Homo sapiens: one gene and its partners. The protein of the gene in region 3 interacts with the protein of the main gene of each other region in a pairwise test. Each region holds a gene or a part of one and is shown on either strand. Other genes may lie near its edges. The genes, in order: OASL, ETV5 and SEZ6L2.

Region 1 (5,504 bases), on a different chromosome or scaffold from region 3:
TAAACAAAACAAAACAACAAAAAAAAACGCCTTCACTTCCTGTATTGAGGTGGGTACTAGGAGAATTATCTCCAATGTACAGATGAGAAGACTGAGGCAGTGAGGAGCTTGCCATGGTCTCCCAGCCAGAAGGCAGCAGAGTCAGAGAAAGAGCCAGAACTCAAGTAGGGGATGGTTCTTCCGCCTCTTTCTTCCTCGTGACCCAAGGCTGTGAGCCAGGCCCTGCTTCCAAGGGACCATGGGCATTCAGACCCAGCACCTCCACCCCCTGGGAGAGGGTTGGAGATGGCACCCTGTGTGTGAATGAAGGACACATTCCCCCCGAAGGCCAGTCTAGACTTCCCTTTCTTTTTGAGACAGGGTCTTGCTCTGTTGCCCAGGCTGGAGTGCAATGGCACGATCTTCACTCACTGAAGCCTCGACCTCCTGGGCTTAAGCAATCCTCCCACCTCAGCCTCCGGAGTAGCTGGAACTACAGGCATGCACCGCCATGCCCAGCTAATTTTTTATATATATTTTTGTAGAGTCGGGGGTCTCACCATTTTGCCCAGGCTGGTCTCGAATTCCTGGGCTCAAGCAATCCTCCCACCTTGGCCTCCCAAAGTGCTGGGATTACAGGCGTGAGCCACTGTGCCTGGCGTAGACTTCCCTTTCTGCCTTTCCCACTGGTAAGATCCAGGCAGAGAGAAAAGAACACATCCAGAACAGGCTTCCTGATTTGCTTCAGTTTTAAACCTATTTAAGCACAATTCATTTGAAGACGAGCATTCCCTTATGTGGACCAGCTCCGCTCACTAGATTTTCAGAGGGTGGGGAACGGGAGGGTTTAGACTCTAAATAAGATATATTATTCCTCATTAGTCATGGCTCACTGGGGATTGCTACCATTTAGTGGTTTCAAGAGGAAAAGTGGCTATGATGTGCAGGAAGTATTTGAGGCTTAGGTAAATAGCATTTCCTGCCGTAAAAACTCATTCTTGGCCGGGCGTGGTGGTTCACACCTGTAATCCCAGCATTTGGGGAGGCCGAGGTGGGTGGATCACTTGAGGTCAGGAGTTCGAGACCAGCCTGGCCAACATGATGGAACCCCGTCTCTACTAAAAATGCAAAGATTAGCCAGGCGTGGTGGAACACACACACACACAATAAACTTATTCTTGTAGCATCCTCCTCTTACCAGACATTCCTTATTCCCTCCACTTTATTCTCAAGTTTGTTGGGGAGGGGGTGGTCTAGGAGGGTCTGCCAGAGTCAGACTTGAGTCCCAGGCCCAGAAGAAAGCTTGGCAAGAATTATAATGATGCTTCTGTTTCTGAGCATTTATCGTGCATGAATCATTCAGCCTGCATTGCACCACTGGCTTGGTGAGGGAGAGATGATGATGATGCCCCAATCACAGATGAAAAGAATGTGGGTTTGAGAAAGAAGAGTGGGAAGGTCAAAACCACACAGCTGGTAAAGGAAGAAGCGAAGAGTCTGTCTAATATCAAAATTTGTGGTTTCTCACTTATAAATTGTATGGCCTCAGGCTTCATATGCTGGGGATAGGTGCAAAGAACGGATAGGGGCCCAGGGCTTCTAGATCCCTCTGTGAGTTGGTTGCCCCTAGAGAGAGAACTTGAGCACTGGGCTGGGAGTCAGGGGTCCTAATTCTAGTCTTGCCTTTGCCACCAACTCGCTGTGTGACCTTGGGGTATCTCTCACCCTCTCTGTGCCTCGGTTTACTTAATTTTTTAAGTGAGTCATTGGTGAGACTGTCTGATTCTCCAAAGTCTTTCTAGCTCCGACCCTCTTGAATTTTGATCTTAGCTAGCACAGGCGGTGGCATGAAACAGCTGGAGGAAGGGCTTGGGGGAAAATCTCAGTGAGGGGGGCTTGGGTCCCTTGAGTCAAGTTCAAATCCCAGCTTCAACACTGTGTGACCTTGGGCAAGTCACCTCACCTCTCTGAGCCTCCATTAAAAAATCATTTTAGGCCGAGTGCAGTGGCTCACTGTAATCCCAGCACTTTGGGAGGCCGAGGAGGGCAGATCATGAGGTCAGGAGATCGAGACCATCCTAGCCAACACGGTGAAACCCTGTCTCTACTAAAATACAAAAAATTAGCCGGGCGTGGTGGTGGGCGCTGTCGTCCCAGCTACTTGGGAGGCTGAGGCAGGGGAATTGCTTGAACCTGGGAGGCAGAGGTTGCAGTGAGCTGAGATCGTGCCACTGCACTCCAGCCTGGTGACAGAGCAAGACTCTGTCTCAAAAAAAAAAAAACAAAAACAAAAATCATTTTATTGGCCGGCCAGACATGGTGGCTCACACCTGTAATCCCAGCACTTTGGGAGGCCAAGGTGGGCATATTCTTGATCCCAGGAGTTCGAGACCAGCATGGGCAACATTGGTGAAACCCTATCTCTACAAAAAATACAAAAATTAGCTGAGCATGGTGGTGCATGCCTGTAATCCCAAGCTATTTAGGAGGCTGAGGATCACCTGAGCTCAGGGAGATTGAGGCTACAGTGAGTGGTGATTGTGCCACTGCACTCCAGCCTGGGTGACAGAGCGAGACCCTGTCTCTAAAAAAAAAAAAAGTCATTTTATTATCAAAAAGTTAAAACACATAGAAAAATAGATGATACAACTAACACTCATATACCCAACTAGTTGATTCAACAAGTCTAAATTCCTGGCTACATGTGCTTAATCTAAGCCACGTTAAAGTAAATTATAGGCACCAAGGAACTTTGTCCCTAAAATACTTCAGTGTTCGTGTCCAAACAAAAGACAACCTTCTGATAACCACAAAACTACTGTTACACCTAACAAAATCAACAATGATTTCCCATATCAGATATATGTACTATCTGATATCTAGGCCAGTTGTCCCCAAACTATATTTTACAGATGGTTCATTCACACTAGGATCCAACCAAGGACCTCGCATTGTATTGGTTCTGAGCCTCCATTTGCTAATCTGTAAACTGGGCAAAGAATAGTACCTATCTCACAGAGTGCAAGAATTAGAGATAGTGTATGTTAAGAGGTTAGTCCAGTGAGCCCCCAAATGTGAGCTATTATTACTAGACTCATTCTACTCAAGGCAGTGGTGCAGTGGGGTGTAGACAGCTAGGTGGGATGGGGTATTCTGAGATGTCATCAGCATGGGCTAGGGATAAGGAGGACAGGGGTCCCCAGCATCCCCAGGGACGTGGACTCTGATACTGGGTTTTGTCTTGCGTGGGGGCTGGAGGAGCCCAGTCTTACCTTGACTACCTTCAGCACCCGCACATCCTGGTCCAGCCCACGCTTCCCCTGGAAATGCTCCTGCCTCAGAAACTCCTCCACGGTCCGCACAGCGTCTAGCACCTCTTCCTTCCACTCCCGGTGGGGCTGCAGCCACTGAGCCACGAAGGAGTCCAGCCTGGAGGCTGGTGTGCTATACAGTTCCTGCATCAGTGCCATCTCTGTCCCGAGAGTACCGCTGCTGGGCAGATATATAGCCAGGCTCCTACCCAGCTCCCTGGCACACACCTCCTTTTTTAAGGTAGCTCCTCCTCAGCTGCCCTCCAGTGCTCTGTGGGAGGAGGGACCCTAGCAGAGAGGAAACCAGGTGTGACGGGCTGACTCCAGGTCCCCCTTCTTGGAGACACCCTTGCTGCAGTAGGGGCACAGGAGGACTCTGGGCTGAGGCTGGAATATCTGGGGCCACCTTAACAGGCTGGCCGTCTAGTCAATCTGTCATCAGTTTCGATTCTCAACTTTTAGAGTTCTCCTTTATGACGTTGGGAAACTGAAGTTGGATAGTGTTTGACCCCAAAGGAGGCAACTTGCCCAGTAGGTTGGGGTTGGATAGTTGTTAGTCAATTCAACTGCTTACATCTGTCTAAGGAAATTGAGGCTTGGGAACGGAAGGGACTCACTAGTGTTCAGGTGGTGGAGTGAGAATCTGGAGCCCAAGAGAACAGACTGGGAATTCTAGTCTACCTGTGCCAGACTCTAACCTCTTTGACCCTCACTATTCATAGAGTGGGTTTTTTTGTTTTTTTGTTTTTTTTTTTTTTTGGCCGGGTCTTGCTCTGTTGCCCAGGCTGGAGTGCAGTGGTGCAATCTCAGCTCACTACAACCTCTGCCTCACGGGTTCAAGCGATTCTCCTGCCTCAGCCTCCCTAGTAGCTGGGACTACAGACATGTGCCACCACGCCCGGCTAATTTTTTTTTTGTATTTTTAGTAGAGACGGGGGTCTCACCATTTTGGTCAGGCTGGTCTCAAACTCCTGACCTCAAATGATCCGCCCACCTCGGCCTCCCACAGTGCTAGGATTACAGCGTGAGCCACCGCGCCCGGCCCATAGAGTGGGTTTAACAGGTATTATGATTCACGCACTGAACCAAGAAGTTCATGCATTGAGCCAAGAAGACAAAATAAGATGAGGTTCCTGTTCCAAGGGGACTCCCAGAACGGTGGAGGAGACACAGAAAAAAGAGACTGCAAAAGTCCAGTGCGATGAGTTAAGTAGGAAAAAAGCATGAAAACATGAAGCCGGCAGATGAGTTTCATTTGGTGTTAGCAGACACCTGCTTGAGAGGAATCTTAAAGACTGGGGATCCGGGCTGGGCATGGTGGCTCATGCTTGTAGTCCCAGCACTTTGGGAGGCCAAGGTGAGAGGATCACTTGAGGCCAGGAGTTCAAGACCAGCCTGGGCAACATAGCTGGACACCTGCAACTTCCCAAACTCTGAATAATATTAAGTGCTCCAGGGCTTAGTCCTGGGTCCTTTTCTCTTCTTGTTCTAGACTTACTCCCTTGGTGATTTCAGCCAGCGTTTAAATGTTTTTACTCTGGCAACTTCCACATTTTAATTTTATTTTTATTTATTTGTTTATTTTTGAGATGGAGTCTCACTGTCTCGCCCAGGCTGGAGTTCAGTGACACAATCTCGGCTCACTGCAACCTCTGCCTCCCAGGTTCAGGCGATTCTTGTGCCTCAGCCTCCCAAGGAGCTGGGATTACAGGAGCCCGCCACCGCGCCTGGCTAACTTTTTGTATTTTTAGTAGGGACAGTGTTTCACCATGTTGCCCAGGCTGGTCTTGAACTCCTGATCTGCCCTCCTCGGCCTCCCAAAGTGCTGGGATTACAGGCGTGAGCCACCATACCCAGTGACTCCCACATTTGTATCTTAAATCCATACCTCTTCCCTGAAATCCAGACTCATGTATCCAACTCCCCACTCCACATTGGCTTTGAATTCCGGTCTGCCCTTTGCCACACTTGTAACTTCTCTGCTTCTGTGGTGAGGATGATTGCAAGGGCAAGAACAGATGTAGGGAGATGGTCAGGACACTGCACAGTGGTGCAGGTGAGAGGCAGTGGTGGCCTGGAGTTTAAAACTCCAGTTTTTGTTTTAAAAACAAAAAGTTTTTTAAAAAATAGCTAGGTGTGGTGGTGTCCACCTGTAGCCCCAGCTACTTGGGAGGCTGAGGTGGGAGGACCACTTGAGTCTAGGAGTTTCAGGCT
Region 2 (5,405 bases), on a different chromosome or scaffold from region 3:
GATCCTGAAATAGCTCTGAAATTGAAAAAGAAGACCCCAGAATGAGGATATTTCTTTCGCTAGGGAGAAGACAGGGAAGAATCTACACGCTACTGTCACTGGGAGCAGGGAAGCCACAACATAATCAGGGAAAGCTTTACTACCTTCAGAATCGTGAGCCAGATCTGTGTCCAAAAACTTCCTCTTTCTGTCAATCACAGGCCGCCCTCTGCATTCCTCAGATCGAGATTTCTGAAAGAGGCCAACAGAAAGTGAAGGCTCAAGTGTAGTAAAGAGGTCCACAGGGGGAAGACTCATATTGGAGAGGGAGGACAAAACAAACCAAAAGCCACATAAACTTACCCCTGGGACCATAAAAGGGACTTGCTGATCATAAAACCCGTCCATGGTGCTTTCAGCGTCTCTAATACCACTTTGAGAGGTTTCAGCATTGAGTAATTTCTGGGGGAAAAGGGATCCTCCTGTAATATGAATTTGGGAGATTTTAACTAAGAGGGGGGAAAAAAAGAAATGAAACAATTTTAGACTGCCTTTTTTTTAGGGCCTGTGCAAAATTATTACCCTTCTGTGAAGTACTTAAAACCTACTCAAGGTGCAAGCTTTACACACCAATGCCGGGCTTGATTAATGGTATCAGAGGTACAGGATGTACTCCGTGCCAAATCCATTTACCCAGTCATCATTTTTTCTTTCTTATTTAAATCATTAAAATTACAGATTTGCTACTGTCTGTTCTCTACCAAAACAAAAATAAATAAATAAAATAAAATAAAAGGGTGATTTCAAGATTCTCTCATATACTCCAGGGCATTTGTAGTAGGGTTTTTAAAAAAGAGATAATTTAATTTTTGACAGTACAGTGTCAGGAAGCAGAGAAACTGGGTTTAAGTATTCCAAATTATTGGCAATTAAAGATCTGACATACATGGTGTTTCCAAAAGCATTTTGTAGGTCACTGTTAAAACACTATATATAGTTCCTGGAATAAATTGATCAGAGGTATACTTATCTTCACACACAACTCTTTATTTAAAAGAGGACTAAACAGATATAGCATCTGTAATGTCACAAATATCTCCCTGGTTACTTACAGAGATATTTGTGACATCTCCAACTTCTAAAAGAGTAAAATGTCTATGAAAAGTAATGGATTAAAAAAACTAATTCCATTGCATGTGGTACAATGCATCTCTACCAAAGGTCTTTTAAAACTTAGGCTGTTTCATATAGCGGAATCATTTTTTTCTAGACATACCCCCCCACCCCCAAATGAAACTCATTTCAGGACGGGTAAGTGTGTGAGTCTGGGGAAAAAGGGTGGGGTTAGAAGGGAGAAAACTTCTCCTAACGTGAGTGGAATAAAGTAACAATTTCAGGGAGGTACCATCTTCCTAAACACTTTTATTCTTCAAATAAAAACACCGTTAAGTCAACAAAAGGTGGAAAAACATTAATTTCACTCACTCCAGCTCTAAGCAATTCAAAATGCTTAAAGGTCAACTTCTTTTGTTTGACATATACACAATTTTAAACAGGAAACTTTTCCCCCGGTGAGCAATTCCATCCAATTTGTTTTTCACACTGTGTGTAGCATATCAAATTTTTCATAAGTGGGCAGGATACAAGGACACCCTTCACAGCCAGCATCCTCCGCAGCACTTTGGCCCAAGGAATCAGATATTTTCAAAGTCAAAGGAAAGAGAGGAGCAAAATAGCACACAGTTCATAACTTCCTAGAAAAACACTCGCGCCAGCCTGCCTGCGTGCCCCGTCCAAACACCACAAGAAATGTTCAGAATAACGCCTCTCTCAAATGCCACCAAACCGTATACAAAATCTGAGAAACCTCAGCAGTGAGTTGAGGGGCATGAAAGAGAGAGTGCTCTGTCGCTTAGGAAAATCTGTCAGATTAAATCATGGCCTAAGACATTTTGTGAATGTGTTAGGAGGAAGGGGACAACCAGTAGAAGACGGGAGGGGGAGATATTTTTCAGTCTCATGATGAAATACTTCACCCGGAAGAGCAAAAAAAATTCTAAAAAATTAAAAGAAATAAACTGCCATAAACGAACGGAAAAGAGGCATTCCAGGGTTAGAAAAATTGTATTCCAAGTATAATTTTTTTAAAAGCCTGAAGGAAAGGCTCGAGTTCATCCAGGAGTTTAAACCACTTCCTTTGCCCCCCCACCACCCGCGCCCCGGGCGCCCCCAGGAAAACTTTAGCACAGCGCAGCGGCGCGATCCAGGCCCCTCCCCTGTGGCGCGCAGCGGGCCCGGTTTTATGAATGGGAGAGCGAGCCGCGGCCGCCACATCAGGTAGAGGCTGTAACTGGATCTCTAGCGCTGGGCCCCATTCACAAAACAAGACACACTTCCACCCAATTCTCAGCCTTCCCCATTCATGAAAACTCCTTCAGCTGCGCCCCCGCCCCCATTTCCAACGCACGCCCAGCCTCCGACGCAGGCCCCTCACCCCAGCGTTTTAGGAAGAAAGCTCAATGCTTCATTCACAAAAAGGGAAGAAAAAAAAAAAAGCCGCAGGGAGCAGCGAGCCAACGAAAGAAACCCGCTTCATTCATAAAGTCACCCACATTCATAAAAACGAGGTGCGGCGCCCGGCGCTACCAACCGCTTCCAATCCCCCCACCCCCAACATCTCTCCCTGGCACCCCCTCGTCGACCAGGAGTTCGGTTCCCCCCCGAGTTTTCTCCACCCTCTGAAAATGCGGCCGGAACCCTAATCCGCTGCGAGGCTGCAGCATCTTTCGGTGCTGTCCCCTCCACACCCGTGTTATCCCCACCATCCCCAGGCCGCTGTTCCGGTGCGCCCCGATTTTCTCGAGTCGCCGCACAGCCGGACGCCCTCAGCCTGCTGGGTGGGAGCAGGGCGACTGGATGTCCACTTTCCACCACCTGAAACTTGCAAGGCCTGCGTAAGTTCCTGGTCGACCCCCGCCCCCGCAGGCTGCACTTGCCTGTGTCATTTACCCCCTCCCGGTGCTCTGGGGGGCAGCGCCTCTCAGACATTCCCCTCAAACTGCTTCCCGCCCCCTCCTCCCAACTGCGGAGCTCCGCCAAGCGTCTCTTCTCGCGAGCCTCCAAGTCCCCTCGGGGCTCTCGAATCTCCAGAGACTGTGAAAGCCTCGCAACTCCGCGATCCCCCATCCACTCGGGAGCCCCCGCACTCGCGCTCCGGGGCGCCTCCCCCACGACGTGTGGAAAGCCGCTCTCCCCGCGCTCCGGAACCGTTAGCCGCACCCGCCCGACGCCTCCCAGGAACCAAACCGGACCGGGCCGCGGGGGGAGGGGGCGGTCAACCCGGGGGGGGTCACCCCAGCTACTGCACCCCGACTTTGAAGATTCTGAATCAGCCCGTGAACTCTAGCCGGCTGGGCCTGTCGGACCAGTGGCCGGACGCCCCTTCCGATCTCCCCCCTGCCCCCGCAAAGCCCCCTCACCTGAGGCGGCCTCTCTCCTCCCCTTGCAGCGGCCCCGGCGGCGCAGGCGCGCTCACGCACGCGCGCAGCGGGCCTGGGCGCCTGGGCGAAAGGCTGGGCCGAACCGCTCCGAAGACGGTGAACCGCTCCGCGCACCAGCGGCTGGACTCTGCGCCGCAGCTGCCAACCAGGCTGGAGCGCTGGCCCGGCCCCCCGCGGCTCGCTGCTCCGCCCGCCGCCATTGGCCCGCGGCCCTAGCCCAGCCTTGTTCCCATTGGCCAGAGGCCGTTCCCGCGGCTGTCCATCACCTCTTGTTTACCCTGTCTGCGGGCAAATCCAACCAAGCCGCCCCATCAACTCCGGCCCCCATTGGCCAGCGGTGCATCTCTCTCCACCCCCTCAGGGGTCTGTTTTACATAATTTATGCACCGGGGGCCATTGGCCAATCAGCACAGGCTTGTTTATATAATGAATGTAAGGACGTTTTTCATTCATAAAAAACGCGACCTGAGGGGGAAGCTTAGCTGAGTCAGTGAAGCACTTAAAGGGGCCGAGGCCAGGAGGAGCCGCCGTTACTTCCCTTCTCGCCGCTCTCCCGACTTTTCACCGAGGCACGACTCTTCCCCCTTACCCACTCACCCCCACTTCTCCATCCAGCAAAGCCCCGACCAGAATTGGGTCTCTTGGCGCCAGACGTTCGCAGCTGCAGCACCAAGCAAAGTTATCATTTTAGAATTCAGGGGAGAGGAATTCGTCATTCCACACAAACTCGCTGACCGACCTGGGCGTTTAGCCCACAGAAACACAGAAAACGGAAACCGAGCCCTCTAATCTTAGTTACCTTTAAGAGAGGCCTTAATTTCTTTTAACCAGGTTTCCAGTGGGAAGAATAAGCAGCATCTCCTTTTAAAATCTCAGCTCTCAAACAGATTTTTGTTACTATTTTGTACTGGCAAGGCCTAAGACCCAACCAAATCCCGTTTTCTCTTTAACTGCGGCTCGTAACCTCCGCCAGAGTGGGTTCTGTAGTCGAGGTGAGACAGGGTTCGGGCTCAAAGAAATCCTCTCCGGGGACAGCAGCAGCCAGTCCACCGACCTGGAAACCTAAATCCCTCCGAAACGGGCATGCAGACTCAGACTTTTTGCCTCCCTCCCCGGGCTGCTTGTTTTCCATTTAAGTATTGAATGCAAGATGGTGTATTTGCGAATTAGATCCCGTGCAGCTGGGAACGACGAGAAGCGGCTCTGCTTGCCAAACGATAGGGCACTAACTGCAATTGCTGAGATTCTTAACAGGGTGTTCCAGGAAACAAATAAACAAACAATCCTCTCCCCTCTCCGCCCCCTTACCCCCTCCTGTGAAGGCCGTGGGGCGGCTCTATCTTCTCTCCGGGGATGCTGGGGGCCTGTGACGGAGCTCTGTTCTCGTCCTGCTGGAGTGCCCTGCCATTCACGCCGCGTGCCAGCGGTGGGGAGGAAAGATGCTAAGTGACAGGAGAGAGCCCCTAGCAATGGGGGTCCCACGGTGGCCAACTCTGGGGCAGTTCCTGCCCCTGCCACCCCCACACTTAAGTCAAAGGTTCTTTCCTATCTCCACTTGTGTCTCTTAAACAGAGCGGACACTTGGTCTGTCGTTTATAGCCCTTGAAATGTTGGCGTGCCCCTAAGCAACCTGCAGCACCCGTGTTGAGTCCTGGGCTCAGCACTGACCAGGCACGCTGGAGCTGTTGACTTTGGAAGACTGAAATGGGCATGAGTTGATGGATGGAAAGTACTCTGAACATGTAACAAGCAGTTCCTTGAGATCTAGTTTCCTGGTAGAACATTTTGCTTCCGACTCCAGTTTTCCCTTAGTGCCCTTTTTCTTTCTCCAGGTGGTACCGTTTCTGTTTGGTGGCTGGAGATCTTACACTAGTACAGTTGTGCTCTGAGCTTATTGCTGACATTCCTGAGAGCTCTATCTCCCTA
Region 3 (5,429 bases):
CCCTCGGAGATGTTGTTATTACACAGAACTGAGGAGATACAAATGGCTGGGATGGAAGGAATGCCTGTGCTTTTGCCCTCCCAGCCAAGCAACTCTGGCCTTCATCTCCCTTCTCCTTAGCACTTCTCATCATCTTTTTGTTTTGTTTGAGACAGGGTCTCGCTCTGTCACCCAGGCTGGAGTGCAGTGGTGCAATCATGGCTCACTGCAGTCTCAAATTCCTGGGCTCAAGTGATCCTCCCTCCTCAGCCTCCCGAGTAGCTGGGCCCACAGGTGCACATCACCATGGTGAGACAATTTTTAAAACTTTTTGTAGAAATGGGGTCTTGCCACATTTCCCAGGCTGGACTCAAACTCCTGGCCTCAAGCGATCCTCCTGCCTTGGCCTCCCAAATCACTGGGATTACAGCTGTGCGCTGCTGTGCCCCCCTCACCATCTTTTATTTTTTTATTTTTATTTTTTTAAGATGGAGTTTTGCTCTTGTTGCCTAGGCTAGAGTGCAATGGCTGGATCTCAGCTCACCACAACCTCCACCTCCCGGGTTCAAGCAATTCTCCTGCCTCAGCCTTCTGAGTAGCTGGGATTACAGGCATGCGCCACCACGCCTGGCTAATTTTGTATTTTTAGTAGAGACAGGGTTTCTCCATGTTGCTCAGGCTGGTCTCGAACTCCCGACCTCAGGTGATCTGCCCGCCTGGCCTCCCAAAGTGCTGGGATTACAGGCTAGAGCCACCATGTCCATCACTATCTTTAAGCAATGCTCCCTCTCCCACCTGAGCCAGAACTCCCTTTCCCAACTGTTATATAGCTGAAACAATTGGAACACTGCCTGGTACATAGTAAGGGTACAGAAATGCTACCTTTGTTATTATTATTCTCCCATCTGTACCCAGGACTCCTTCCACAGTTCCCAGCAGCCTCTCTCCCATCCATCCCCAGCGTGTACCTCTCCGGTCCTCCCACCCCCATCCCCTTGCTGTCGCCTCACCTGGGCTGGTCACCGTAGTGGTAACAGTTGTCGTGGTGATGATGGTGGTCGTCGTCTCCTCCTCTCCTCCCTCAGGCCCAAGGGGAGGCCCTGGGGAGGCAGGGCTGGGTGGGGGTGGGGCTGTGGTTCCTGGGGGCGGGGTCAGCAGTTCTGGCGCAGTGGGGCCTGCCCCCCTGACCCCGTTAGGGGTGACGGCTGTTGTCAGAGGCCCTGTCCCCGGCTCAGTGGCCCGTGGCAGGGAGGGCACTGCGAGAGTCTGGCCGGCCGGAGGGGTGGCTAGCGTGGGGTCCCGATCAGATCCTGGGACAGTGCAGGGAATATCAGAGCACAGGAGGAGCACATGGAGGACCTTGGGTGGGGAGCAGGGCTGAGGGAAGCTAGGGGTTCCCCTGCCATACCACAAAAGCCTCCCGCACAAGGTACAGCACCCCCCACCTTTCCCTTCCCCACCCCAGCCCCTACCTCCTCCCAAGGCTTCCACAGCCTGAGTCCCCCCTCTTTCTCTTCTGGTCCCTTCTCTCCACCCAGCCCCTTCCACCCTGATACTCCTCTCCCTGAGCCTCTCTCTCTGCCTCCTCACTCAGATCACGTTCTCTCTCTGGTTATCTCCTCTCTCCTCTGTCTCATTCTCTCTCGAACTCTTTATTTCCCCATTTCCCTGTTTAGTATTCTGATTGCACTCTGATTTCATGATTCGAGATCCACTAGTTTTTGTGTTTCATTCTCTCTGTCTCTGTCTTCCACCATTTCTCTGAGTCTGGTTCTCTGAATTTCCATCTCTGTTTCTATGTGTCTGTTTTTCTGTCTGACTGTCACCTAATCATTCTGTCTCTGTCTCTCTGGTTCTGTCTGTGCCCAGGTTTGACTTTCTCTGACAGTCTCGTTCTGTGTTCCCTGAATCTCACAGGAATGCAGGCTCTTTCCTCTGCAGTCTCTCTCTGCCTGCTCTTCTCTAGCCTGGCTCCCCATCTCCCTGAGCCCATATCCCTCCCTCTGCCTCTAGGCCACTCCTGCCACTCTGGGGGCCTCACCTGGCAGGTAGCCCATCTCTGGGCCCCTCCTCAGCAGGGCCCCATGAAGCAGTTCAGCCAGGGCCTCAGAGGCCACCGTGGGGGTCTCACTTCCAGGCTCTGGCAATATCTCCTCCTCCTTCAGGGGCAGACCTAGGAGGTGAAGTTGTGTGAGCTTCTCCACTTCCCCACACCCCTTCCTTCTCCAGAGAGATATTTTCTAGAACTCTTCCTCCCTCCTCCATCAGCTGGGCCTGCAGGGGCTCAGATGGTCCCAGGCTCGACTGAGGGCCAAGATCGGAGGAGGGGCTCCCAGCTGCCCTCATACTCCCACTCCCACACCTCTTCTCTCCCCTCCCCTCTCCCTTCTCCCTGGGCTGTGTGGGCCTTCATTGAACACCTTAGCTCTTATGGACCCTGGACAGCGCCAGCAAGGCAGAGGGGTCGCCGGTGCTGCCTTCCCTTTCACCTCAGTGGTGATCTCCCCCCAACCCTGGGGCTCTGCAGAGGATCTGGCCGCACCTCCCAGCCCTTGCTTCCGCAGTGCCTGGCTTTCTCTCTGGGTTTCTGTCTCTGCAGTGTGGCTGTCTTTTCTCTCTCTCTCTCTCTCTCTCTCCCCCCCACCCTCTCTCTCTCTGGTCCTCTGCAGTCTCTGCCTCCTTCCCTGGAGTCTGGCTGGGGGTCAGAGTGGGGGACTGAAAATCTGGTCTTTGAGCCCTGCCTCTGCTCATCTGTCTTTGTCCATTCATCCAAGAACAGTTGTGTGTACAGCGCCTGGCATCTCTCTCAGCACCTCCATCTCCCACCCAGGTCCCTCCATGCTTCTGCCGCCTCCGCAGACATCCCCCCAACTTTCCCAGCCCTCCTTCTTGGATCTAGCCCCTGAGACACTGCTAAAAGCTTCTCTCATTCATTTCTCTGCCTTCTCAATATTGAGGGTTAAGGGGCTTCGGGTTCAAGCCTGAAAGCTCTGGCTTGCCCCTTCCCCATCAGCTGTGCCTCTCCCCTCCCCCATGTGCTCGGAAGACCCAGGATATTAAGAGAAAGGAGGGTGGAGGACCCCGCTGGACGCCTTCCTGGGGCCCACCCCCACAGTCTCATGTCCTTACCCTGGATCCAGGGACAGCTCAGCAGAATTAGGAACAGCAGCTGGGGAGGCGGCGGGTGCTGGGCCCTGGGAGTCCCCATGGCGACTCACCCCGATCTCTCTCCTCTGTGCCTCTCTAAGTAATCTGGCTGCCACCTTTCCTCCGTCTCCGTTTATCTTTCCCTTTAATTGTTTTTTTTTTTTTTTTTTTTTTCCTCGTAGGAGTCAGCAAAGAAAGACAATTTCTCTGCCCCTTGGGATGGAGGGGCAGAATTGGGCTAGGGGTCGCCTGGAGCCCACCCCCCTTTGCTCAGTCTCCTCTGTCCTCTTCTCGCGGCTCTGTGGTGGAGGGGGCGCGGCTCCGGCTGCAGGGGGTGGGGCCGAGAGGGCCGAAGGGGCCGGGTGGCCTGGGTTACCCTCCTGCTCAGGCGCCTGGGTCCACTGGGCTGTCTGGACCCCAAGCTAGGGGACTGGGGAGGAGAAAGACAGCTTCTGGGGGTTTAGGGTGGGGTCGAGGATCGAGGGGGTCTCCACTGGGCTCTAGCGGGGCTTGTCGGGGAGGGGAAGGGGTGGGTTGGGGAACTGGGAGAGCCGAAGCTCGGGCACTGGAGCTGCGGGAGGGAGAAGCTGAGAAAGGTATCGAGCCCACGTCAGATCCTGGGGACGGGCGGAGGGAGGGGCCTGGGATTTATTTGACGGGGAGGGAGGAGGAGGAAGTGCAGATGGAGGAGGGAGGGATCATACGAGCCAGGGCCGTAATCCTCACTCCCGCGGCCCCTAGGGGAGGCAAAGGAAACTCTCTGGTCCCAGCAGTAATTAGCCCCCTCCGCCTGCCATTCCAGCACATCTGGAATCTGAATCTCCTCTTCCCAGGGTGCCGAGGGGCTGCATAGCTTGGTTCGCGCCTGCTAGGCCCCCAATTATGCCCCCTGTTCACATTCAGACCTCCCAAGGGGCTTCCCTTCCCCTTTTACAGTAGCTCGGGTGGAATGGGCTCTCCCTCCTCCAGGGGAATAGAGAGCTTCCACGATTGTGACAAGTCTCGTGGGTGACGGGCCGGGGTTTGGGGAGGAGAGACAGACCCCTCCTCTTCCATAAACCCTGACCCCGGCCAGCTAACAGGCGGCCTCGGCTCTGATTTTCCCTCCGGAGCGCCCTTTTCAGCACCAGCGGCGCGCGGACAGCTCCCCTCGCCCCGCCGGGGCGGGCCCGGCCCGACGCCGCCCGCGATTGGCTGAGGCCGCTTTCGGTGTTTGCCAGGCTCGCGGGCTCCCGGGCTGCCTAGGGCCAGCGGGAGTCACAGGCCGACCGACCGACGGACCAGCCGCCCGACGGACTGGCCTCAGCATCCTTGCCCGCAGTCCCGGGCGCCTGCCCAGCCGTCAGTCCGCGCTCGCCCCGCCCCTCAGGCCCCGCCCCTCAGGCCCCGCCCGATACGACCCGCCCCTTCTTTCGCATTGCGGGACGGCTGGAGGCTGGCACCGTGGCCCCTGCGCCCCACGTGGCGCCCTTTCCGGGCGGGGGGGGTGGGGAGGCACCTCCAGCGACAACTCTCCCCCCTCCCCCGGCACCCGGCTGATTTGCTGTGCCACTGGGAGGGTTCGGGGGTGGCTGAGCTGAGAGGGCTCCGGGAAGGAGTGACGTCAGGGTGAGTGGGAGCCCAGGAAGGAGCGAGTAGGAGAGAGGGAGCGAGAGCCAGGCAGGACCGCAGGGTCGGGGCTAGTGAGGAGCGAGGGCAAGGAGAGAGCAGTGAGGCCGGAGAGAAAGAAGCTGCCGCGGAGGAAGACAGGCTGCGGGTTCCCGGGACTGCAGGTCCAGGCAGGGTAGGAACCGCTGCCCAGGGGAGCTAGGAGGAAGCGGGGAGAGAGAGCGAGCGAAAAGCGGGGGTGGGGAGGAAAGGGGGAGATTGAGGTGGGAGAGAGAAGCAGAGCGAGAGAGAGGAGGCTGCTGGAAGGAGAAAGAAGAGGGTGAGGAGGCGACAGAGGGAGAGGAGGAAGAAGAGGTAGAAGGAGAGAGAAAGGGGAGAGAAAGGAGAGAGGAGGGTTGGAGGTGCATGAAGGAGGGGAGAGGGAGCTTCAGCGTGGAGAGAGGACCGCGGAAGGAGAGAGAGACAGCCCAGAGTGGAATGTGGAAGGGAAACAGTCCAGCGGGGAGCCAGGGGGCAGCCATGGAAGGGACAGGTGGGGAGCTGGGGGGACAGGGGAACTGGGGTCCGGAGGACGCCCCAGGCCTCTTGGCCAGGGCCTCCCTGATCATGCTCCCGTGGCCACTACCCCTGGCCTCCTCGGCCCTCACCTTGCTCTTCGGGGCCCTCACTTCCCTGTTCCTCTGGTACTGCTACCG

What was found.
Region 1: the proteins of SEZ6L2 (region 3) and OASL interact in a two-hybrid assay, tested with the Homo sapiens proteins (one large-scale study listed by BioGRID and IntAct).
Region 2: the proteins of SEZ6L2 (region 3) and ETV5 interact in a two-hybrid assay, tested with the Homo sapiens proteins (one large-scale study listed by BioGRID and IntAct).

The regions. Positions count from the first base shown.
Region 1 is NC_000012.12:121,035,523-121,041,026, forward strand, and holds the start of OASL (2'-5'-oligoadenylate synthase-like protein), read right to left. Parts: upstream 3,725-5,504; 5' UTR 3,450-3,724; coding exon 3,252-3,449; intron 1-3,251.
Region 2 is NC_000003.12:186,105,482-186,110,886, forward strand, and holds the start of ETV5 (ETS translocation variant 5), read right to left. Parts: upstream 3,609-5,405; 5' UTR 3,459-3,608; intron 462-3,458; 5' UTR 388-461; coding exon 343-387; intron 232-342; coding exon 144-231; intron 16-143; coding exon 1-15. UniProt on the Homo sapiens protein: Binds to DNA sequences containing the consensus nucleotide core sequence 5'-GGAA.-3'.
Region 3 is NC_000016.10:29,895,833-29,901,261, forward strand, and holds the start of SEZ6L2 (seizure 6-like protein 2 isoform 5 precursor), read right to left. Parts: upstream 3,719-5,429; 5' UTR 3,188-3,718; coding exon 3,109-3,187; intron 2,153-3,108; coding exon 2,021-2,152; intron 1,290-2,020; coding exon 990-1,289; intron 29-989; coding exon 1-28. Other genes in the region: ASPHD1 (aspartate beta-hydroxylase domain-containing protein 1), read left to right, coding at 5,140-5,429. UniProt on the Homo sapiens protein: May contribute to specialized endoplasmic reticulum functions in neurons.